Regions from separate parts of the Homo sapiens genome. Here regions 2 and 3 are each linked to region 1. Evidence: fine-mapped expression QTL. A gene starts in region 1. Each other region holds a variant in brackets. All regions are shown on one strand. Distances are between the middles of the regions.

Region 1 (8,183 bases):
CATTTGTGGTTGGGTCAGGGGTGGTTATTGCATCTAGATTCTTTGCCTGAAGGAAAATGAAAGTAAAAAGGATTGTTTAAATGTTGAATAAATCCTTTGCAGTGGAGGGATGCTCTGGGCTATGGGATGATGTTCAAATGTGAAATGTGGGGTGAATGAGATTAACTGGGGTGCCTGCTCTGAGTAGGACCCTTCCATAGCAACAAACTTCTTTTTTTTTTTTTTGAGTCAAGGTCTCGTTCTGTCACCCAGGCTGGAGTGCAGTGGTGCACAGCAACCTCTGCCTCCTGGGTTCAAGTGATTCATGTGCCTCAGCCTCCTGAGTAGCTGGGTTACAGGTGTATGCCACCATGCCTGGCTAACTTTTTTGTATTTTTAAGTAGAGATGGGGTTTTACCATGTTGACCAGGCTGGTCTTAAACTCCTGGCCTCAAATGATCCACCCACCTCAGCCTCCCATAGCGCTGGGATTATATCAGCACTGTGCCTGGCTCACAGCAACCAACTTCTAATCATCCCTTTGCTGTTCTGTCTCCCATTAGACCACAAGCATCCTGAGGGAAGCACCACTATCATTTTTGTTTGTTTGGTTTTGGTTTTTTGTAGAGATGGGGTCTTGCTATGTTATCCAGGCTGGTCTTGAACTCCTGGCCTTAGGAGTTCAAGGAGTTCTCACCTTAGGCTCCCAAAGTTTAGGGAATACAGGCATGAGCCACCAAGCCTGACCAGCATCACTATCTTATTTGTTTGTATTCTGTCATATGAAATAATGCCTGGCACATAGTTCATATTTAGTATATGAATGAAGAGCCCATACTTAAAGGCATTTTAATATGGGTTCTTCAGTGGCCTCTAAATCTGATACTTTTCTCCAGTTTCCCTCTCACCATCCCTTTAGGATCTGTTGAAAGACCACTGATCCGGTGGTGTAAAGAGGACTGGGAAACACCTTTCCATAGACCCACCATATGGGATAAGTAACTTGTGGAAGGCCTTAAACCTCCAAGTGTGGTCCTGGAATTCTGCAGCATCACCAGGGATATAAGCCTGGTAGAAATTTGACCCTCAAACCCACCCGAGGCTTGCTAAGTCAGACTCCACACCACAAGAAGATGCCCAGGGAATTCCCATGCATGTTAACATATGAGAAACCCTGGCTTAAGTAGAAATGGCAGAGGCAGGATCAGCACCAAGGGTTTCATTCTAGGCCCCTTCTTATTGAGCTTTGGCTCCTCCACATGCTAGCCAGCAAGTCTACTCCCTGCTGTCTGAATAGCCAGCTACTGGTGGCCAAAGCCTTTGGTACCTCTTTCCACCCTTGAGTCTCTGACCATTTCTCTGAACTAACTCTCTGGTAAAAGGTAGGAAAAAGAATTGAAACAACCACAGTGAGAAGAATGTCACTTGGCAATGACTAAAATCTTAAAATCATTTTGTGCTCCTTGGTCTTTGTTTCTGTGGATCACTGGCTGGAGTTGGATGCACTTTTTTCTGCCCGCCCCCCCGCCTTTGGTTTTAAATCTCTTGCACTATTAAAAATTGATGTTAAAATCCACCTCAGTTAATATATAGTTTAAAATACAGTTATTGATGTCCTTTGCAGAAGAGAGCCAACCAACCAAACAAACAAAAAAAGATTTAACAATAACAATCAGAAACTATTTCTCAGACTCTTTTGTTTACGTGTAGCCTTCTCTTTTGGAAGTGGCATTGCATCCCTGAGTTGTCCAGGACACTGTCTTTGAGCCTGTCTTCCCCCACACCAAGTTGAGGGAATGAGGACACACCCACCTTTTTCTGCAGGAACTGGATCAGGACTTTTGTACTCATCTGCACAGCTCTGGCTTGTTCCTCACTACTCTCAAATCTGTTCTGGAGGTACTCTAGGTATACCTCAAACTCCAAAAGACCAGTGATGATTTTCACCAGGCAAGTCTCCTAAGAGGAAAGATGGTGGGAAAATTGGTTATCGCCAGGAGATAGAATCAATTTGAAAAGTTAAAATTGCCACAGTTCGACATCTTTTCCCTCTGCTCCTCTAGAGAACTTCAAGTACCTCTTAGGCAGCATGTTTTGGGACATTGGACAGCACCATTTTAAATAACTGGACAATCAGAGGCCCCATGTAATTAGTTTTATCCAAAGCCCAACAGATGCTAGAATGTGGCAATGGGGATCCTTCTCTGATTGTCCCCCTTGATGTTCTTCCTGCACTCTTGCCCTTGTTAATGCTGGGCTGGAACCTCCTTTTATAAAATAATCAGAAGACAGTGCAGGTTATCTCACTGTGGAGAATGAGCTGGGCAGGGAGGGAGGGCAGACCTGGACCCTGCCAGGGGCAGCCAGAGAGGGAAAAGGCCCTGAGAGTACCTTTCCCAGGATGAACTAATTAAACCTGTGGGAGTTTTAAACATTTGACAGTTGTTAAAATCTCACCACAGTGGCACCATCTCTGGCCATACCTGTCCAAGAATAAACTGCCTTTAAAAAAGCTTGAAGTTGGCCTCCTCATGAAATTTACATAACATTCTTTACATTTACCCACTTTTTGTTGCTGCCTGGATCTATATGTATACAGGCACTGCATGCAAGAGGGAGAAGTTTTGCCTAAGGAATAGTGAAAAGTGAGTGCGACAAGTTGGTACCTCATTGAATCCAGATTGGAAGCATCCATCTTTTTCAGCCATCTTTGGAAGGTTCAGGTTGTTTTCTGCCAGTGCCTCTTTGCTGCTTTCACACATGTTACTCTTGTTACATGTCTGGGAAAGAATACCAGAATTGTTATCACCTAAGTGTCCCTAAAACAAACACCACTAGAGGGCCTTTTCATTGTTCAACCACAGCCAGGAAAGTCTCTAAGAAAAATGAAGCTACAACTCATTGGCATCCTGGCAAGCAAATTCCAGTGGAGTGGGGGCACACTTGGGTTCAGTTCCAAGCTCACCTGTGACTTTAGGTGTGTTACTTAATCCTGAGTCTCAGTTTCCTTATCTCCAAAAACCTTCCTTGCAAATTTGTTTTGAAGATTAGACACAATATTTATTTAAAGTGCCTGGCACACAGTAGATACTTAATAACAGCAATTTTGACAATAATTAGGAGAATATAATTCAAGCCATAGAATGTTCCAGCAGGAAGGATCTATGAGATCACCTAGTCCACGCCCAATTTTACTGATGGAGTCCAGAGGTGGTAGGGAATTTACCCAAGATCACAAGGCTGGTTTGGCAGAACCAGAATTCGAGTGTGGGCTCCCAATCTCCCCTCCTGTGTTCTTTTCTTTCTACCAAACAGGACCAAAATACCTTGCATTGAAAGTGGGGAGATGCTTTAACCTATTTATGATTTGCCACTTTGGTGGGCTCTGAGGTATGAATCTTAGCTGGAATGGCTTTGAGGAATCCTAGCCATTGAGTTTACATAACCAAAAAGTACTGCAACTGCTCTGAGAAGCTGAACATGCCTTTCAGGTGGCACTTTTCTAGTCCTTCCAAAGCCCGGGGGACAAAAAGGAGCTTCACAGACCTAATTTTTTGGAAAGGGAAAAGGAAGCCCTGAGAAGCAATAACCCTCAGCTCATGCCAAAGGTGGGCATGGATTTCAGACCCATTCTGCATTTTCCAGAAAGGAAAGGAACTTCCTGACACCAGCAAAGGATAAATACAGAAGTCAGTCTAGTCGGCCCCGTTGGCCTCAAATCTACAGTGCTCTAGAACCCAGCAAAGACCTCCTAATGCAGGCAGCCCCCGGCCACACGCAGGGGCAAGGGGAACGCATGCGCACCGGGCCCTTCAACCCCATCGCCAAGCCTACCCACCTCCTTTCTCAGGGCTGAGATGCCGTCGAGGATGTACCGAATTTGTTTGTCAATTCGTTCTGAAGAGGTGAGTGGCTGTCTGTGTGGGGCGGCTACATCTTTGGAATCTTCTCCTGGGGGTACTGGGGCAGGGAAGGCAGCAGGCAACACCAGGAGCAGCCCCAGGGAGAAGGCAACTGGACCGAAGGCGCCTGTGCCGGAGGGGAGCGAGCGCAGGGGTGAGCTGACAGCACAGCTGGGAGCCTGCCTCTGCTGCTGGCCGCCCGCCAGCCCTCCCTGGGCCACACACCCCTCCCTCACACAGGGCTCGACCGCCGCTGGCAGTTCCAGGGCTAAGGATTTCCTGCACTTACTTGTGGAGAAGGAGTTCATAGCTGGGCTCCTGGAGGGGAGATAGAGCTTCTCTTTCGTTCCCGGTGGGCTCGAGGGCAGAATGAGCCTCAGACATCTCCAGTCCTATATTTATTGGGGGTTGAGACTCTAATATTGAGACTCATGGGAAAATCCCACATTTGATAAATCTTTGTTGGAGGGTGAGGGTGGGGCCAGAGCGGGTGGGGCTGATTGGAAACCTTATTAAGATTGTGCAATGTGACGTCCTTTAGCATGGCAAGACACAACTAGGGGGAAAAGTGCAGCTTAGGTCGTCATTGAGGCTAGCGCTAAGAAGCAGAACCACTCTTCCTTTACTTTCTTTTTTTCTTTTATTAGTGACTCAGCACTTTGGCATGTCTTGACAAAGAGTAAAGCTGAAGTCATGCACGAAGTTTTACAAAGAGAAAAAAAATAAGCTAAAGCTATGTTTTTTGAAAAAAAAAAAATTTTTTTTCAGTGACCAGATTAACAGGCTAGAATTTAGCGTTCCAGTTAATTTGTATTTGTAAAAACCAAAGATGTTCTGAACTGAGTTTCCTCTGACTCCATCGCAGCCCCCCAAGCCTGGGATTATGAAGAAGGTAATACTACCAGTCATCTGAGTTCTTCTGTGTTCTGGCTCTCCCTGTGAGCGGCTGTTGTAGAACTGCCTGGCCATCCTCAAATTTCGTGCAGTTACTTCAAGGCGTCTCCAGGTGGAGTGTGTGACTCCTTTTTGCCACCGCGTGGCTTCTGCCACTTTCTTCACCTGCTTCAGCCCACTTAGAGGAGGTTGGCTGCTGCCCTGCCCTCTCCCAAGTGACCCCTTGGGAATCCTCCCAGTGAGGACTTTGCTCTCTGTGCCAGAGGTTTGCCTTGTGCTGCCAGTGCTCTCCCCATTGCCACTGAGTCTCTTCACCACTGTTTCACTGGGGCACCTGCATGGGCCCCAGGTCTCCTGGAGCCCTGAAATTACTGAAGCCCACTTGGTTCAGGGCAGAAAGGGGGAGAATACTACTCACCTCTTTGTTGGGGATGTCAAAGGAGGACCTTGTGGCATCTTGCAGAGTTTGTGTTTATCGCTCCCTCTCCCTGTAAGTCTTGATTTGAAATCAAAAGAAGCTAGAAGGAAACTACGGACGCAGGCACGGCTCTAGGCTCTGAATCTGCTTCCGCGTCGGCACCCAAGAATTTCTTATTGGGTCAAGCTGGTTCAGAAGCCCTCTTCCCTCAGGATGGTGTCTCTTGCAGGAGGATCCTTGGTCTCATGCAAATGGGCTCTAGACTAGGTTGTCCCTCCAGTCTCCAGAGACCCAGACAGCTCTGAGATGGCTTCAGGCTGAAACCAGACCCTTGCACAACACCAAAACACTTATTTACCAAACATGGTGTTACCTTCACAATCGGTTTCTTTGCTTTGCTAAGAAGAGATCTCTTCAAGATCGATAAAACAGTGACCTCTGTTGGGCATTTACTCAAGTTTTGTTTCGTGCATAACATTTCAGGACCCGCCTGTTGGGGAAAGTGAGGTCATCCATTCTTCACCGATTGTCTAAACAGAGACGGTGGTCCTCTGCCGCGGTGGGATTCTTTGGTGTGAAAATGAAAATGGGGGAGGATGGCTGGATGGTTTCATTTTTAGTGCTCTCCTGTCTTAAGCAACGTAGACACTCCTGAACCAAGTTCTCTTTCCTGCATGAAACGAAGCCACTGCTCCCAGCTCCGCAGCCGTGCACTGTGATCCGTCTATGTAATGTGAGCTTGCTTTTACTCAACTATCTATTTTTTAGAAAATACAATTCAATAAATTTCAAGTACTTGAACTGAGTGACACAATACAACACACAGATTTATCTTTTCAATAAAAAGTGTTTTTTAAATAGGAAGTTCGTGTTCATGATAAAATGTTCAAATAGGACATCAGGGCATGCAGGGAAAAGTGTCTCCTTCCTCTCCTGGCCCCTTTTCCCAGAGGTAGCACCTAATTGCCTGTATTTTCAACCAAATCCTCTGTTATCCTAGCCTGGGAAAGGTTTTCTCGTCTTCCCAGCTGTTTGATCCTGGCTGTTACATCAAGGACCTGTGCCCTTGTTTATTCACCTATAAAACGGGGGTAATAATAGTTCTTCCTTTCTAGGGCTGTTGTGAAGATGGAACGTGATGCAGTGTAAAAAATTCCTGGCGCATAGTAATCCCACAATACATGCTAGCTCTTTGAACATTCCTTGGCTCAGAGTCTCTGCCTTGGAGAGCTCTTCCAGCTCGGCTATATCGGTTCACCTGGTGTCTTGCCTATGAAGGAATTATGAATGAACCAGGCCTCTGTGCCAGCAATGAGCTGGTCTCCCAATCATTTTCCCTCAAAAGAAATGAGATTCTATGTTTTGTTGAAAATGTTTTATGGCACAAAGTGCAAAATGAAAAATAATAATAATTTTCTTTTTTGAGAACATTAAGATCCCCAAACCAGGTCTCTTGTTTTAGATAATTAGTCCAGCTTGCGTCTTGCTCCTACTAGACTTTTTCCAAGCCCTCCACTAAGTGTTTTTATGTCAGAATTCCACAGCCTTCCCTGTGCATGGTGATTGCCATTAATTCAAACTCCTGATAGTGGCCCTCGAGGGTGAAGGGGCCTGATGCTTCTGGGGTCAAGAAAGGGCAAACTGTGGGAAGGCATGTGTGTAGGGAGCTTGGAGACACTGTCTGCCCCCTGCACATCGCAGCATGGCACTTTATTAGTATCAATGCTTTGGGCTGGAATTTGCTTGTGGGAGAGATGAGCTCTACCTTGCTCCAAAAACGTTAATGTAACTGACATGTGCAATTCCACAATGATAGCTTCCTTCCTTTGCATCTCAATGGATTTTTCGCGTGGAGAGCTCATTCTTTGTTTTTTCTTGTTTTGTTTTGTTTTTTCTCTTGAGAAGGAGTCTTGCTCTGTTGCCCAGGCTGGAGGGCAATGGCATGATCTTGGCTCACTTCAACCGCCGCCTCCCAGGTTCAAGCAATTCTCTTGCCTCAGCCTCCTGAGTAGCTGGGACTACAGATGCATGCGACCACGCCCAGCTACTTTTTGTATTTTTAGTAGAAACGGGGTTTTGCCATGTTGGCCAGGCGGGTCTTGAACTCCTGACCTCAGGTGATCCACGCGCCTCGGCCTCCCAAAGTGCTGGGTTTACAGGCGTGAACCACTGTGCCCAGCCCCTTGTATTTTTTAAAGGGCAGCTTTAGGTCATAGCAAAATGGAGAGGAAGGTACAGAGATTTCCCATATATCCCCCTCTCCCCCCAACTCTCCCCCGTATTTTAGTATGAATACGTGACCAGAAAAGGCTGTGCTGTCAGCATTTATTAACTAATACTTTAGTTGCTGGATTGCATCATAGCTGATGTGAAGTGAGCGCCAGCTGAGATCAAGAGAGGCCAGACAAATGGGAGTGCACAGGGAGGAAGCAGCAACTTGGCTTCCTATGCCACCAGTGTGGGGCTGGCATGTCCTATCTGGATCTCCCAGAATTACTGCCCATGACTGCTTTCTTACGTGATGGTGGAGTCCAGTTCAGAATCTAGTAATACATTTGAGACCAAGGGGGAAAAGTAGCTTCCATTTGGTACTTAAGCTCTCAGGAGGAGAAGTGTTCTCCACGTCTCAGGAGTTAAGATGTAGTGTTGTGCTCTTTCTCTATATTCTGGGGGTTGGAGATGGATGAGTCTGTGATTTAACAGGAGGGAGTACAGCAAGAAAAAACGGGAAGTCCTGGGTACTAGGGAACTTGCAGTTGCTGCCAGAATGTAGTTTCACTTGTTGCCAAGTCGTAAGAAGTTTGTAAACTGAAACAGTGGGTGATTTAACAGCTTCTTCTGGGGTTGAGTCCCACTGAGCAGACACCAGGCTCTAAGGCTCTGGGAAATGTCCTGCTTTGATGGTGGTATTACTTGAAGAGAGAATTTTAGGGACATGTGGTGTGTCAATTTAGAAAGAGCCAGCTGATGTTGGAGGGCAGCCAGGCCTG
Region 2 (8,183 bases), 160 kb after region 1:
ACCTCAGGTGATCCACCTGCCTTGGCCTCCCAAAGTGCCGGGATTACAGGTGTGAGCCACTGCACCCGGCCAACCTTCTGTCTTGACAGGAATAGGTTAAGGTAGCTTTGGGGGTAGGAGTGAGAGGTGTCCTTGTGATCTCTCAACAGTCCCCAACCTTTCCCCTCATAGTACCTGAGTGTTTTCCCTTCTCTTTGTGACACTCCACTGAAGGACCACCAATGAAGACTACTACTAAAGATGCAAATATCCCTGGAAAAGGAGATGGAGTGACAGGAACACTGATCCTACACCAGGGCTGAGCACAGAGGATAGAGACAAAGCAGGACCCAGGAAATGTGTATTGCAAGTTTGAAGGTTGAGCCTTTATAGAACAGTGATCTTGCTGGAACACTCAGGTGAGGAATGAGAGTAGATAGCGAGGCTGAGAAGGACAGCTGAGATGGGGTGGGGAGGGGGTGGGGAATGTCGTCAGGGGAATCAAAGATCTGAGTGAGATAGGACAAGCACAGGGAAAAGCAGCAGGCATTCAAGGAGAGGACCTTTATAGGTTGCAAAAGGTGCCCAAGGTTGTTGGAAAGGGAGCTTACAAAGGTGAATGTGGTGAATCTCTACCTGCAGGAGGAGATGAAGGGGTGCTTCTCTGTTCCCAGGGTCTGAGATTAGGCTGGAACCACTGGCCAGAAACTTAGTTTCATGGCAGGCTTCTTCAGCCTTTCTGGCATCTGCGGACTAATCACACCAAACTCGGTCACCCTGTTCATTAGGTAGTATGTCATATCCTGCAAACCACTAGATTATAAACCCAATTTGTGGTCTGCTTTCGGGGTGAGACTGTCGCTATCTCAGGTCAGATTTTTAAGGGTCAGTCTTATGGCTGCACCTAGAGCTTTGTCAGAGTCAAGCCCTCTGGGTTAGTTTAGGGAGCCACAGTTTGGTACCCAGAGTTGGGCTTGAAACAGTTGAGCAACAAGTCACTTTTCTTTATCTTCCTGTGCATTTTCAGCAGTCATCATGATTCATATGACATAGTTCCTCGAAAGACCAAGAAAAAGTCACACAATACTTCCTATTTCCTATGGTGCAGGGATACATATTTTCTTTCTTTTTGAAAAACGCTGTCGCTGTGTCGACCAAGCTGGAATGCAGTGGTGCAATTACAGCTCACTTCAGCCTTGACCTCCTGGGCTCAAGGGATCCTCCCACCTCAGCCTCCTGAGTAGCTGGGACTACAGACACATTGCCACCACACTTGACTAATTTATTTACTGTAGAGATGAGGCGGGAGAGGGGTCTCACTATGTTGCCCAGGCTGGTCTCGAACTCCTTGGCTCAAGCAATCTGCCTGTCATGGCCTCCTAAAGTGCTGGGATTACTGGCGTGAGCCACTGTGCTCCAGCCTTCATATTATTTATAACTACAGTACATAGTTAAGAATGTCTGGGACTTCAGAGTTGGAAGCATTAAGAAATATTTCTGTGATTAAATATAGATACTGGGTAATAGTGTCTGTTTCTAATTTATTTTTTAAACTATTTTTTTTCACCGCAAACAAACTAAAAGATAGTGACTTTTAGTCCTGGTGCAGTGGCTCATGCCTGCAATCCCATTGCGGGCACTGGGAGGCTGAGGCAGGCAGATCACTTGAGGCCAGGAGTTCAAGATCAGCCTGGCCAACATGGCGAAACCCTGTCTCTACTCAAAATACAAATATTAGCCAGGTGTGGTGGTGCGTGCCTGTAATCCCAGCTACTCGGATGGCTGATGCACAAGAATCGCTTGAACCCGGGAGGCAGAGGTTGCAGTGAGCCAAAGTCATGCCACTGTACTGACTTCTTAAATGTGGAGGTAGAAAGAGTTAAGACTTTGCATATATCTACATGACACTAATCCATATCTAAAATTTCATATTATGGATTAAAATTCTGAAATTTGAGTTTCCGTTTAATGGTATAGTTAGAAAGAGAAATCCAATCAGGATATAACAAGATTATAAAACCACTATTAGTCCAACAATTCTCAAAATATGGCTAGGGGACTGCTGGGGGTCCCTAGGTTCTTTCTGAGAGATCGCAAATCCTGCCTTTTCCAACTGTATACCTATCTAAGACTTGACTTTACTGTGTAAGACTGGATTTTCTTTTTATACTTCAGCCAAAGCAACGTAAGTAACAGATTGAATACAGAAGTAGATAGGAGATTTTAGCCATCTTCTCTAAGACCAGATATTAAATAAATTTCTAAAAATATAACACAATGCCAATCTTATCATTACATTTTGTGGGGGTTGGGGGAAATATAGTTACTTTTCATGAAAACCATTATTAATGTTAAAAAATAAAGAGTTTGTTATAGTTATTTTAAATGAATGAACACATATTACAACCATTCCTTACTTTTAATTTCTAATATAGTAAATATTAATACATATAAGTCACACAAACAAAAGCTCTTTAAGGTCCTCACGAAGTAAGTTTTAAGAGGGTAAAGGGGTCCTGATATTGAGATGTTTGAAAACTCCTGTGTGAATCCTGGTTCATTTTCCTCAAGCTAATTCTCTGGACTTTGTACCCATCCAAATTCCATTTCCTTAGCTTGAGTTTGTTACCACCTCCACCCTCTTCATTTTCCCTCCCAACAGTATGCTTATGTGCAAGGGTAACGTAAAAATATGTAGCACGTTATATGGCATGGAAACCCACCAATGCAAGCATTTGCACAACCGTAAGCAAAGATTCTGACTGAAAGCAAAAAGTTCAGTCCCCCTGTCTCTGAACTTCTAGGTCTTTCCACTTGTAAATTCCATCTGCCTGTGGATATATGAGAATTCCCTCTGTCATCCAAAAGACTGTCCTGCTTACAGGTGAATCCTGGGGGGCTGGACATAGTACCTAGCACATCGGAGGGACTCAGCTGGAATCTGTGCGTGAGTCCATATTTCTCTATCCTGAGTGCAAACTCTGCCGCACTTAGTAGTGTCCCTCACACCAGTGTGGAGGAACACAACGTAGGGTTCCATTATGGCGATGAGACTGAGAACAGTCACCAGCCACTTTCATCACCATCATCATCATTGCCCCAAGGAGATGGAGCTTCAGATGGTCTAATATTGTGCAATGTCTTAAACACCTGGATGAGATTTGTTTAGGCTTAAGGAATGCGTGAAATGACTCAGAGATCTATGTTAACCAAACCAGTTAAACCACCCTAGTTAAGACGTAGTTAGCACATTGCTTAGCGTGCACCAGAATGAGCTTGTCACCAGAAATGCATGGAATGTATTGAGATGCCGTATTTTGGTGAAATGAGATTATGAGAACTGGGAAAACCAGATTCAGGGGATTTCCGAAGGCCTGAGGCTAGGCTATGACCACCAGCTCTGCACGCTTGGAACTCTCCCCAAGCGAGCATGTGATTCCTTGGGCACTTATCCCTTCCTTCTTAATGTTATGGAATGAATTGTGCATCCACCCACCCTGAATTCAGATGTTGAGGTCCTAGCCCTCAGTACGCAGAATGTGATCTTATTTGGAGGTAGGGTCTTTACAGAGGTAATCAAGTTAAAGTGAGGGGCGGGGTGCTAACCCAATAGGACTGATTTCCTTATTTTAAAATAGGGAAATTTGGACCCAGAGATACATTCAGAGAGAAGATGATGTGAAGGCACAGGAAGGATGCCCTGTGAACATCAGGACCA[A/G]TGCCTGCAAACCTAGGAGAGAGGTCTACAACAGATCCTTCCCTCGCAGCCCTCAGATCGAACTGACCCTGCAAGTACCTTGATTTTGGACTTCTGGCTTCCAGAACTGAGCAACAATAACTTTCTGTTGAAGCCGTCCAGTTTTGAAGCCACCCAGTCTGTGGTGCTTGGTTACCGCGGCCCTAGCAAACTTGCCTGAGGCTTTCCAAATCACAGCCCCGTTTTGTCACAGGGGAAGAATTCTAAGAAGTTCTTTATTTGGCCAAGTGAGGGATAGAAGAATAATGAGCATTTCCCTCATCACAGCTCTGACAACTGCCTCAGCCACACACGGCTTAGGAGATTGGCCACTTCCTCCGCCTTCAGCTTGCAGGGGGCTTCAGTAATAAATGTGTAGAAGTGTTTGGTCTTCTCAATGCTGGGAATCCAGGGAGTATGGCCTGGCATACATGGAAACCAGTCCCCTAAAGACCTCATTGACACAGGCCTCATTTGGGGGTCTCCTCAGGCACTTCCCCCTTGGCTCCTGAGGCCAGAACCCGACCCTGCTGTGTCTCTCTTCCATGCATCTTTTTGCCATCTCTGCTCTCTGGAATCTGCAACAATATGAGGGTGCTCAGGACTTTGATGTTGCTACTGACCTCAGCATGCCCCAGTCCAAACCTACCTTCTTCCTCCTGGGCCCACATCCGCTTCTGCTCCCCACTTCCCCAGTGTCTTCATTCTTTTCATCACATGCTGACCAAAGACTCATCTTTAGGCACTCTCTATGTCCCTTCTGCTACATCCACTCTGTTGCCACATCTCCTGAATTCTTCTGTCTGATTTCTTCTCACTCTTCCTTTCCACCCTGGATCAGTCCATTGGGGCCGCATGTCAGGACACCGGATGACACTGTTTGGACACCTGGAAGGATCGGGTAAAAGATACAGAGAAGTCTAAGGAGGGATAGGGTGAGTCTGGGATGGGCTGTGGATTAGGCACCAGGTAAAGCTAATTGGGGGGTGGGTGAGGAATGGGGTGAGGGTATCTATTGCATCTATTTTATGGTAATAAAAGGAAGTTGAAAGTTCAGTTGCTTGTTTTGGGGAATTAAAAATGATCATGAATGTCAAAATGTGAGCAACTTTGCACAGAATGGCAATATCAGAGTGTCATGGATCATCGCAGAAGCCTTCTCCTTGTTGCCTGCATTTCCTTCCTCTAATATTGTACACACTACCACCATATTTAAATATGCAATTCTGGTTAAATGCACCATTTCATTTATTCATATAGTCAACAAACATTTGCTGAGCACACTTCTCATTATTGAAATTTAGTAGAAAATGAGACTGAGTGGATCCCTGTTATTTTCCTACCATTCCCTCCAAGAGCTCCCGCTCCAAATCATTCTTCTTTTAGGCTGACTCTTAGTCTTAGTCACCATATATGTGAGTGTGTGTGTGTGTGTGTGTGTGTGTGTGTGTGTGTGCATGTGGTGTGAACATATGGCAAATATATAACTAGGGCCCCAGATATAGATTCGTAACTCATTTATTATAATCAAAATGAAGATACTAAAGGGTACAGATGCTCAGTGGTTACCGTGGTGATGAGCACTCTGCGAATAGCCTTATTCCCCTTTGACGGCATTTTCATTCATAGGATGAAATGAAGAAAACATGAGAACATTTCCAAAAGTGCAGGAATTATCCCCTCTGTCATGCCATGCATTTGTTTTCATTTTTCGAATTTTAAGCTTGAGAACTTTTAAGCTGGCTTTTTAAAGTTTATGCAAGGAGAACAAACTTAGTTGCTTAGTTTGCTGCTCTTCTAATTCCTTAGATTTGTAATATAAAGCAGCATCCCATTTTAATTTTGAAAGGCAAAGAGCTACGCTGTTGCCTCCATCCTTCTCCCAATTCCCCTTATTTGATACTCCCCAGCACCAGAGATGCAGGCTGTTCCGCTCTCCTCTCATCCAAGTGCAGGGAAACTTTCTCTCAAGTTTTCTCTCTCAACTAATAACCATAAGTTTTTGGAGAAGTCAGTCAGTTCAAAATATATGACATTTTAGGCCAGGTGTGGTGGCTCACATCTGTAATCCCAGCACTTTGGGAGGCTGAGGTGGACAGATCACTTGAGGCCAGGAGTTCGAGACCAGGCTGGCCAAGATGGCAAAACCCTGTCTCTACTAAAAATACAAAAATTAGCCAGACGTGGTGGTGGGTGCCTGTAATCCCAGCTACTCAGGAGACTGAGGCATGAGAGTGGCTTGGACTTGAGGGGGCGGAGGTTGCAGTGAGCTGAGATCACACCACTGGACTCCAGTCTGGGTGACAGAGTAATATTTTGTCTAAAAAAAAAAAAAGATATAAAAAAATTAATCATACAGACCTCATAGAATGGTCAGAGATAAGATATAAACTGCTGGGTATTTTCTGGATTTAAACCAACTAAGCCGAAAGTTTGGTTTATATTGGGCAAGCATGAAGATGAATATAATCTGTGACTGAGTGCTCGATTCATCACGCTCTGAGTCTCCTTTCTAAGACACCGTCGGCTGCGTAGACTTGGAGAGGGTCCAAGGGAGGAAGTTGCGGGCAAGGCAACCAGTGGGAAATGCCCAGTTTCATTCTAAAGTCTGCTGAAGGGGTACGACGAGTCTGTACTTCTTTGAAAGGTTTTGGAGAAATACCTTGCACATGACAATTAGAGAAGTTCTGGTTATAGTAGCAGGAACTTATTTAGATTGTCCCTGGATCATGGGTAAGAGGGCACAAGAAAGAGAAGCCTCTGGTTAAGATATTTAGAAAGATGGGGTAGAAAGATGGGTTCCTGGGTAGTTGGCTATTGTCCCATAAATCAGGGCCCCTCACCTTCTGGTCAAGCCCTGCAGCCTGATGGGCAGAGGGACATGTGTCAGCTGTACTTGACACATGGTTTTAAAGCCAACACTTACTGAATGAGCAGTTCGCAGGTGCCAGGCCTAGAACTGTGCACTTTGCAAGCATTGTCTGGTTTAGCCCTCTTAGGATCCAGAGACTCGGCCTCATTTGATAGAGGAGAACATAGAAACCCAGAAAAGTTAAAAATTGTTCCCAAAGTCACATCTTGGTCTCTCCATCTCCCAGAGTTTCTTAGGTACCACCCCCACTACTTCAATGCTATCACTAATTTTTTTTGTGTGTGTGTTCCTCCAAAGCTTTCTGTACTGTACAAGATAAATGCAGAAACTTTCTTGTGTGCCATTGATTCAAAATTCAACATGCATTTTTAAAGAATTATTAGGGACTAGGTTTGTACTAAACAGAGACGAAGATATACAGCCCCTGCATTGAAATTGCTCATCCTCATTTATTTATTTATTCATCCATCCAGCAGACTTTTCCTGAGCACTTTCTATATCCCAGGTACTGTACTAGGTGCTGCGAATAAAAATGCAAGTCAGACACTGTGTTTAACATTAATATTAATTAACATTAATAGTAATGATAATAACAATACTACTAATAATAGCTAACACTTACTGAGCACTTACTGTATGCCCTCCACTGTTTTAAGCACTTTGTACTATCAACTCAATCAATCTTCACCACAAGCCTGTGAGCTGGGTACTATTATCACAATCTTGATTTTACAGATGAAGAAACTAAGGCACAGAGAGAGTAAGAGATTTGTGATGGGCCAGGAGCGGTGGCTCATGCCTGTAATCCTAGTACTTTGGGAGGTCAAGGCGGGTGGATGGCTTGAGCTCAGGAGCTCAAGACCAGCTGGGGAAACACAGCAAGACCCCTCTTCTATCAAAAACAAAAACGAAAGCAATTTTCTGGGTGTGGTGGCATACTTGTAGTCCCAGCTCCTTGGGGAGGTGAGATGGGAGGATACCTGAGCTGGGGGAGGTCAATCCTGCAGTGAGCCGTGATCACACCACTGCACTTCAGTATGGGCGACAGAATGAGACTCTGTCTCAAAAAAAGATTCAAACTATCCGTTTGAATACTGTATGCACACCAGTGTGGGAAGTAAATGAAACAACAACAAAATGTTTGCAAGGCAGTGAAATTGGAGAGAATTGAGGTCAGTTCATGGTCATGAGGGCCAAGGAGAATCAGCGACCAAATATGCCTATCTCCAGGGTTCTGGTAGGGTCTCTTGTCCTCAAAGTGGGCATGTGGCTCTTGGCAAGCTAGGTTAGGAGAGTTGCCTAAGTGTGATGAGCTGGATATTCAAGCTGGCAGAAATGAATTTCTTATACCCTTTTTCAGCTTCATTTCAAATATATGGGGCTGTTTCTACAACAATTGAACTCATGGACACATGGACGAGATGGCTTTTGTTGTGTTTGAAAAAGGGTCAGCAGCAAAGGGGCCAAGAACATATATTGGTGAAGGACAGTCTCTTAAGTAAATGGTGCTGGAAAAACTGATATCCACATGCAGAAGAATGAAACTAGACCCCTGTCTCTCACCATATACACAAATCAAATCAAAGTGGATTAAAG
Region 3 (8,183 bases), 66 kb after region 1:
TCACCTCGGACCACCGGGCCTGGTGGCCACTTCCAGGTTTCCCGGGGGTGGGGGGCGGAGGGATCCCTGGAGGCTGCAGCGCCCGGAGGAGGCGGGGAGGTGGGCGAGCGGTAGGCGTCAGGCAGTGCTTCACAGGCTGTAGGCGCCCAAGGAGCCAACCAGAGAAGAACAAAATGGCAGCCATGACGCCACACCTGGCGGCCGCACACAAACACACACGGGGCAGACGTTTGCTGATGTTTGCACAGGGCATTCTCTTGTTCGTCCTGATTCTTTGTTGATGGTGCTGTCTTTGCCCGGATTGGCTACTTTTTTCCCCTTTTGCTGTCCAGTTTCCTGTTTATCCTTTAAGACTTGATCAGATAACTCCTTCCCTGGGCCCCCACTTCCCCCTCAACTCCTGCCCCTCTGTCTTTCCGTGACTGGTGTAAAATGACCTGCTAGGGAGTCAGCCTAGGGCCAGGAACTTCTTATGTTTCGGGGTGGTTTTGCTCAACTTTGTCCTTCCAGTGCCTGGCTTTCAATCACTACATTGAGGTGGTGTAGAGTTCCTGTGGGATGCTCCGAACTACACCGGGGGTACCACTTGTCCATGTGAAAGATCCCTCCATGACAGTTTTGGTCGTCTAATGATCTGCTTTATTTTTATTTTTTAAAATTGCTAGTGTTCTCTGTTTTGTTGCAATTTTAGTATACGGGATGCTGAAGCGAGCACATGATCTACCTTTTGGAAGCTTGGGAGACCTAGTGAAATAATGGTAGAAATGGACCTATGAAAATCTGCCTTTTGCTTGAGAGTAGGGCTAAAATGTCCACTACACTCGGTAATTTTGACTTGAGTGAGCATATCTGGAACAGGGTGTACTGGAAACTGGAAAATATCCTTTTTTTTTTTTTTTTTTTTTTTTTGAAACGGAGTCTTGCTCTGTCACCCAGGCTAGAGTGCAATGGCACGATCTCGGCACACTGCAAGCTCTGCCTCTCAGGTTCACGCCATTCTCCTGCCTCGGCCTCCCAGGTAGCTGGCACTGCAGGCGTGCCCCACCACGCCCGGCTAATTTTTTTTTTGTATTTTTAGTAGAGATGGAGTTTCACCGTGCTGGCCATGCTGGTCTCGAACCCCTGACCTTAAGTGATCCACCCGCCTCGGCCTCCCAAAATGCTGGGATTACAGACGTGATCCACCGTGCCCGTCCGATGACCTATATTAATACGTCACCCTAATCATTTAATTATCTTAGATATCCATTAAAGTACTGCCAAGTTTGGACGTTTAAAAGAAATACCCAGTTGAGAAATCTTATCTTGTTCCTGTGAAGGAAATGTGAAGTATGTTGAGATGGCCTGAAGAAATACTGCATATGATTGGTATTTCCTCCATCTTGCTATTTTTCTTTTTTCCCAGTGCCCTTCTTCATTCCAGACATGGTGCTTTGAACAATTTGACTTGGAGGCAAGATTGCGATATAGAAAATGGGCCACTGTGGAGGAGATAAGTAAATGCTTTGTCGCTTCTAAGTGACAGGGGAAACTGATCACGATTGGTATACTTCTGACATGTAACTTTCTATATCTTTAGAAGATCGTCAGGGAAATAGAAAAAAAAATCTGAAATCTCCAAGTAGGTTCTACTTTGTGTGGTTCCAACTAAATGAACTAAATTTGTGTTTAAAGATTGTAAGTCTACATGTAATGGTGAAAGCTGAAGGTTTTACACTGCACAGAAATAGTGATTTCCCCCCGTGGAGGGCAAGAAGACCGGAATAGGAGGGGTGGGTGGGGGAATCAATGTGTAGGCCAAATATTTGAAATTTCAGTGCAATCTTCTTAGTCATCACTTTCATTTCTGTCTTCTAGGGAAATCTGACACAGCTAGAAAGCAATGGAAAACACTAAGAGTTGCATCAGATGTTGAAGAGGAACTGATATTATGGGATAAAAAATGATTCTTTAAGGGAGATAACTGGTCATTTAAAGGTAGCAGCCTTTTTGGGAAAAGCTAACAAGTGTTCCCGAGGCCAGCCTGTCTCTTGTTAGCAACATTGGCCCTGTGTTAGAAGGAAGAGTGGATGTGTTTTGATGCTATTCCTTTTCCTCTCAGCATAAATTTGCAAGCATGTACTGTAAATGAATTTTCATGTCTTTTCAGGATGTTTCCCTATAGAGCAGTTTCTAGATTGACTCTGTGGAACAGTCTACAATAGATTTAATATGGTTAGGATTTTGCCTAATTCTGATTGGTGAGTGGTTTTCTTTTATTCATTCTTAATTCTGCATCTAATATTAGCTTACAGTGTTACTGTCACTGTGTGTGACCCAGGGAGAGAAAGGAAGTAAAAGATGTGACCTCAGAGAGCTCAGAGGGGAGAAACAACACAATAATGATAACTCACATTCATATAGAACTTTAAAATTTAAAGGTTACTTTTTACTGCGTTACCTCATTCGTCCTCTCTGCAAGCACATTGGGTAGGCTTTACTATTGCCATTTTACAAGTGAAAACAGTGAAGCTTGGAGAAGTTAAGGAACTTCCCCCAGATCACATTCCTGTAAGTGGCAGTGTCTGAACTTAGTATTCTGACTCTAAAAGGGCATGAGGTTCCATTCAAAGCTAGTGAGTACTGTACAAGAACATGCTAATGAGGCTTTGTGAATAGTCAGAGTGAAATGGGGCTCTTCAGGGATGGTATCTTGGGGAAGCACACAGTGTATGCAGATTATTGAAGAGAGTCAAAGGAGATCCTGCTGTGGGGAGAAGGCTGGAAAGTGCCATGGGAAGAGAACAAGGACAGAAATGAGGTTGACATGTGGGGCAGAGGAAGGAGGCAGACCTTCATAAACAGAGGAACCATGATTGGGAGTAATGGGGGCTAAGTGTAGGAGACACTGGGGGCTGTGTATTTAAGGGGTTGGGGAACAGTAACACCTGGAATTTTCTTTCTATTACCTCAAGAAACCCACAGTGGAGGGGCTGTGAGTGCTCCTAAGAACATGTTCTGCACTGGTGCCTCAATGGGTAGAAAAGGGGGTTGCCAACTGAGTTATATATAGAACTTGTGCAAGGGAAGTTCTTATGCAAAATGACTAAACACACTCCATTGCTCTGCCTGGTTACTTATAAATATTGTTTATGTGCAGAAGTTGATGGGAATCCAGACATTGTCTAAGAGATGGCTCAGAGAATAAAATAACAAAAAGTTGTTGTGAAAGACAAAGGGTTTCTAGGTTACCTGCAGCAGTTGATGACAGTCTGTCCTTCTGTCACAGTAGAGACAGTTTAAGCCACATTCCCAACAAGCATTC[C/T]GTATATCTGGCACTAACACATTGGAACTTGGGGGAGACTATGTGACGTAGCTTTACTCTAGGGAGGGACAGACAATCTGAGGGTGGAGAGGGAAGTGAGACCCCATACAAACCTGGGTGATCTCTACAGTTATGTAACTGTCCAGCCACAAATCACTTATTAAACAACTGGATTCAGAAGACCAAGATCTGCATTTGGGTCACTCCAGTTATCTTGAGATCTGGGACCCAGGTGGCTGGGGTGGCAGCTGATCATGTCAGGAGGACTCCTCTGCACAACATCACAAGCACAGGAGAGAATGCTAAACTTGATTGGGAGCTCACAGAAGACCCCTGGAACCCAGAGCAATAAGGTGAGGAGGCTTAAAGAGCCTGGAGAGAGGAGCTGGGTTGCAGAAGTTCTCTCTTACCTTCCTTTGAAATTTCCAGGTAGGTCCCAGGGAACACATGATGAAAAGAAACATCTGACTAGTTAGTGCTCAGCTGGCTGCACCTAGAGCGTCTCATCCAGGGAAATATTTGCCTAATTCTAGCATAGGGATTACAGTTTGCTGATCCAGGTTGGTTAAGAGCATAGACTCTAAAATCAGGGAGTTTGCAAGTTTACTGAAGCTCTTGGGGCTTGAATTTCCACTGTAAAATAGGGATAATAGCAGTTCTGATCTTGTGGAGAGGATCAAATGAGACAATGCATGCATTGCAGGTTGGGTTCCTTGGGACACAGATTATGAGATGGAGATTTGCATGCAGGAACGTTACTGAGGAGTCCTTTTGAGATCGGTACTTTTGGGAAAGTGTAGATAGCATTACTGGGCACAGGGAGAAGGAGAATTCTGATGCAGTTGTAAGAAAACTTCACTAATCCCATCAGTGGCTGTGTAGCTGCAATAACCCTTCAAGGTTATTTTGAATTGAGGTTGGTCTTATAGCCCTACATCAGTTAATCATTGGATATCAGATGTCCCTGGGATGGGGATGTGATCTTGGGCAAAGAAACTGTTCAGCAAAGGGCAATGCCTGAAGAGCAAGAGCTGATAGCTGTTAGCCACCAACATTCCCTGCAGGTGGGGAAATGAGTGCTTGAGTCCTGAAGGGGGCGATAAACCTGGGTGATACACTGCAGGTTCACCGCAGTCCACTCTTTGCACCTCAGAGTCACTTGCTTCCTATCATAAGTTCTGACAGCAGCTCTTCTAGATTCTGGTGGTCTTCTTTTCCTGGGGAAACATACAAGAGGAAGGTGAATGGAATGACCTAGTGCTCTCACCATAGCCGCTGCTCTGGTGGCTACAAGTGATGCTCATTGTCTTCCTCCTTTACTACCTATTCTAGTTTCCCCGTCCCATCTGGTCCAAGTGGTTTACCTGGCAGGTATAAAACTAGGCTGTGACAGCTGTATTTACCTATTTTCCATTAAGAGACACCCAAGCAGTTTACCTGGGTGCCAAACATAGTTTTCCCTGCTCCCAAAGCAGCCCTCTCACTTCCTGGGGATCAGAATCAATTACTCATGCCAGGAGGCTGACTCTTTTTCTTGTCTACTCTTCTCTTGGTATGAGGAATGTGAAGCAACTGGGTGGCAGCCACACTTTGTCATTTAATGGGAAACTTATTGTGTCCTCTGGTGAAAGCAAGCAACCAACAATGGTGCAAGCCACTGAATCTTTGTAGAGTATATCTCCCATCATCTGAAGGGCATGTGACTTATTAAGGCCCCCAGCATACTTGCTACTTCTTTCTCCCTGGGTCCCAGTAACATAATGTCATAAGTAGTATGGACTGATAGGATGTTTTGCAGGATAGCAGGTGACCCAGCTTTCTTTTGACTATATTTTGATGGAGGGTGAGGAGTTAACACAGCCCAGGGGCAAGACTGTAAGACAATGTATACTACTGTCTGTCCCAAGTGAAGGAGAACTGTTTACGATCTATCTTTCTGATAGAGACGGAAAAGAATGCATTTGTCAGATCCATGGCTGCAAACTAGGTACTAGAGGCAACACTAATCTGCTGTAGTCAAGATATCATATCTGGCAAAGCATTTGCGGTTGTGGATAGTGCTTAGTTGAGTTTGCTGGTCCACGGTCATCTTCCAGGATCCACATGGCTTTGGTAAAGGTCAGACTCGTGAATTAAGTAGGAATGTGAAGGGGATCACCACCCTGCATCCTTAGATCTGTTGTTCCCCTCGGGATATGATACTGTTTTTGATTTATTATACTATCATGGCTGGGTGGGAAAGGCAATTTCAGTGGCTTCTACTTAGCTTTCCCACTGTGATATGTGGAGGCTCTGCCAACAACCAAGTATGTTGATTCTAGTTATGAATACAGGAACAGGAAAAATTTCTAAGTGAGTCCAGGGAACCAGTGTATCCACTGTGAGCCAGAGTTGAGCCAGAACTCCGTTTATTAGTTGGCCCCCTTAAGCCTCCACTCTAATGGTGGGGGTGGTTGTGGAGCATGATGTTACTTTGGATCCCTGGGTTTCAGTGCAAACTTGTGTTCTGTGTCCAGCCATTCTCAAAATGCTTGGGATTTCCCCCTTTCCAAGTGTACAGTTACTTGAGTAAAGGATCATAGATTCTTTTAGGGAAAGATTGAGATAATCATTACTATATATACTTACCATGGTGTTACAGGATCCTCCCTCCTAGAGAACTTGCCCCTCCTTTAGTCAGTAGATTCTGGGTCAGAACACTGGCTCAGATCCAGAAACTGGGCCAGGGATAATGACTTTTCATTGGGCTGCCCTTAGTCTCTTAATCACGAATCCTTGATTTTTTTGGGGGGGTGGGGGGAAGTGGGGGTCTATATATTGAACATTACTCTTAATGACTTGCCCTAGAAATCCTGTATTCTATTAACTGTCTCCATGGATTATGACAGTTGTGACCACCTTGCTTCTAGTGGTTAAAGGTGGCTGCCTGGGCTCTTTTTAGGATTCTTCCTGAAAAGGATTTTAGGATCCTTTTTAGGATCCACTATTGCTATCCATGAGTTCAGCTCTGTAATAACAACTACTACCATCAGCCTGGTTCTATGGCCACTGAGAATTCTACTGAGAATTTCAGTAGAGGATGTTTTCTACTGAAATTCTCAGTGACATTGGTGGCCCTCTCACCAGGGTATTCCTTGTCACTTTGATAATCAGAATATCTTTTCGCCCCTATCATGGAACAAAGCCATCTGGTGTATTTTCTCATCTTGTTTAGTCTGTCTGCTCTAGCATGCCTACTTTTCTGAGCCTTTTGATCTTTTCTTCCACTGTTTGCTGTGGCAGTTATGGCATTTCTTCTTTACTGTTTTCTCCAAACTTACCTGATCCATCCTACATGTGTCTTAGTGCTGTCTTCTGGGGCATTAAATCCTGTCCAAACATATTATTCTAGTTCCTGCTGGCATATGCTAGCTAAGTACTGCAGTTTATTTGGGAATATGATTTTTTTCTTTCCTTGGAAGACCCAGAACTTCCTTAATTGGTTATGTTGTGATTTAATTCTAGTTAGTGGTCTGATGGCCAAGATGGGAGGTAGGAGTAGATTCTGAGAGGATGTATTATTTTATCTATTGCTGTATAACAAATTACCCCCAAAATCTAGCAACTTAAAATAACAAAATTTATTATCTCAGGATTTCTGGCTCAATGTCTCCCATGGGATTTCAGTCAAAATGTTGGCTAGGGCTGTGGCCATTTGAAGGCTTGACTGGGGATGGAGGTCCTACTTCCAAGATGGTTCATAACATGGCTTTTGGCATGAAGTCTCAGTTACTCACTGGCTATTGGCAGCAACCCTCAGTTTGTTGACACATGGATCGTTCCGTCATGCTGTTTGAGTATACTCATAACATAGGAGGTAGCTTCCCCTAGAGTGGATAATCCGAAAATGGCAAGAAGGAAGCCACAATTCCTTTTGTGGCCTAGCTTCAGAAGTCACACTCTGTTGTTTCTGAAATATCCTATTGGTTACAAAAGTCATCTCTATTCAAAGTAGAAGAGGACTACATAAGGGTGGGACTGTCAGAAGGCAGGGACCATTGGGGCTATTTTAAAGACTGCCCAGCACAGGCAAGTGTTTTTTTAGAAGAGGGCTTACCTGTCTTCAGGTAAGAGGTAGTGATAGAATTTATTAGAAAGGAGTGAGCCAATTCTTTAGGCTCAGGAAGTTTGGGGGTGGGGTGGAGAATCTGGGGATTTGAGATTTATGAGTGTATCAACATAAATTTCCCCATTCCAAGTCTCAGTGTCTCACCCCTTCATAATTAGAGACCAGACTCTGATGTGGAATACCTTCTGGGTTGAGAATTCAATTTCCTCTGTGATTCTGCTATTTTTATAATGAAGTCCTGGGTCTGATACTCAGCGTTTTCTGCCCTCTGGCTGCAGGATATGAGAGTTTCTCTATGTGTTTCCAATAAGGCCTCTGGTAGTCACATTTAATTTTAAATAGTGATTGATCACACTCAGTCTTTCACTGTTTTTACTCAATACATCTCTCTCCCTGACAACAGCCATCAAATTCCATAGCCCTTATAATTATTATCCAACCCATAGCTCAACGACTTAATACATTGCATCTGACAGTGCATTCCCTTCTACTGTTTCCCACCCTAGTTCATCCTAGTGCAAATTTAAAAAAATTCACTGTGGTTACAAATCAGTGTATCTCAGTGCTTCATCTTATCACTAGGACTGAGTTCCTCATTGTAGCCCATTTTAATGTTGCTTCTTTAGACCATTCCTGCAACAACTTTTGCTAGACATACTCACTAAGAAATGGGCTCTGAGATGGAGATAAGCATGCTGAGAGGTAACTGGGGACTGCTTTTGTGAGTGAGGAAAATAAGATGGGTCAGAAGGAGATGAACTGCAGTGCAGT

Evidence for each region.
Region 2: its variant is fine-mapped to the expression of IL6 in fibroblasts (GTEx, PIP 0.94).
Region 3: its variant is fine-mapped to the expression of IL6 in whole blood (INTERVAL, PIP above 0.99).

The regions. Positions count from the first base shown.
Region 1 is chr7:22,723,269-22,731,451 of GRCh38, reverse strand. It overlaps IL6 (interleukin 6), which reads right to left and starts at 4,252. Exons shown (of 5, transcript NM_000600.5): 1 at 4,171-4,252; 2 at 3,818-4,008; 3 at 2,646-2,759; 4 at 1,792-1,938; 5 at 1-46. The coding sequence starts at 4,189. IL6-AS1 (IL6 antisense RNA 1) reads left to right here and starts at 3,832. Exons shown (of 2, transcript NR_131935.1): 1 at 3,832-3,884; 2 at 4,747-6,057. RefSeq lists an enhancer at 3,603-4,802 and a silencer at 4,788-4,837.
Region 2 is chr7:22,568,195-22,576,377 of GRCh38, reverse strand. It overlaps STEAP1B-AS1 (STEAP1B antisense RNA 1), which reads right to left. Exons shown (of 4, transcript NR_038393.1): 3 at 4,365-4,603; 4 at 2,380-4,293. Among named protein-coding and RNA genes, the nearest start is that of STEAP1B-AS1, 8.9 kb to the right of the region's middle. The variant A/G (reference allele first, on the strand shown) is at 3,698.
Region 3 is chr7:22,657,139-22,665,321 of GRCh38, reverse strand. LOC401312 (a long non-coding RNA gene) reads left to right here. Exons shown (of 5, transcript NR_122075.1): 2 at 1,406-2,240. Among named protein-coding and RNA genes, the nearest start is that of IL6, 66 kb to the left of the region's middle. RefSeq lists enhancers at 1-341, 342-949. The variant C/T (reference allele first, on the strand shown) is at 3,305.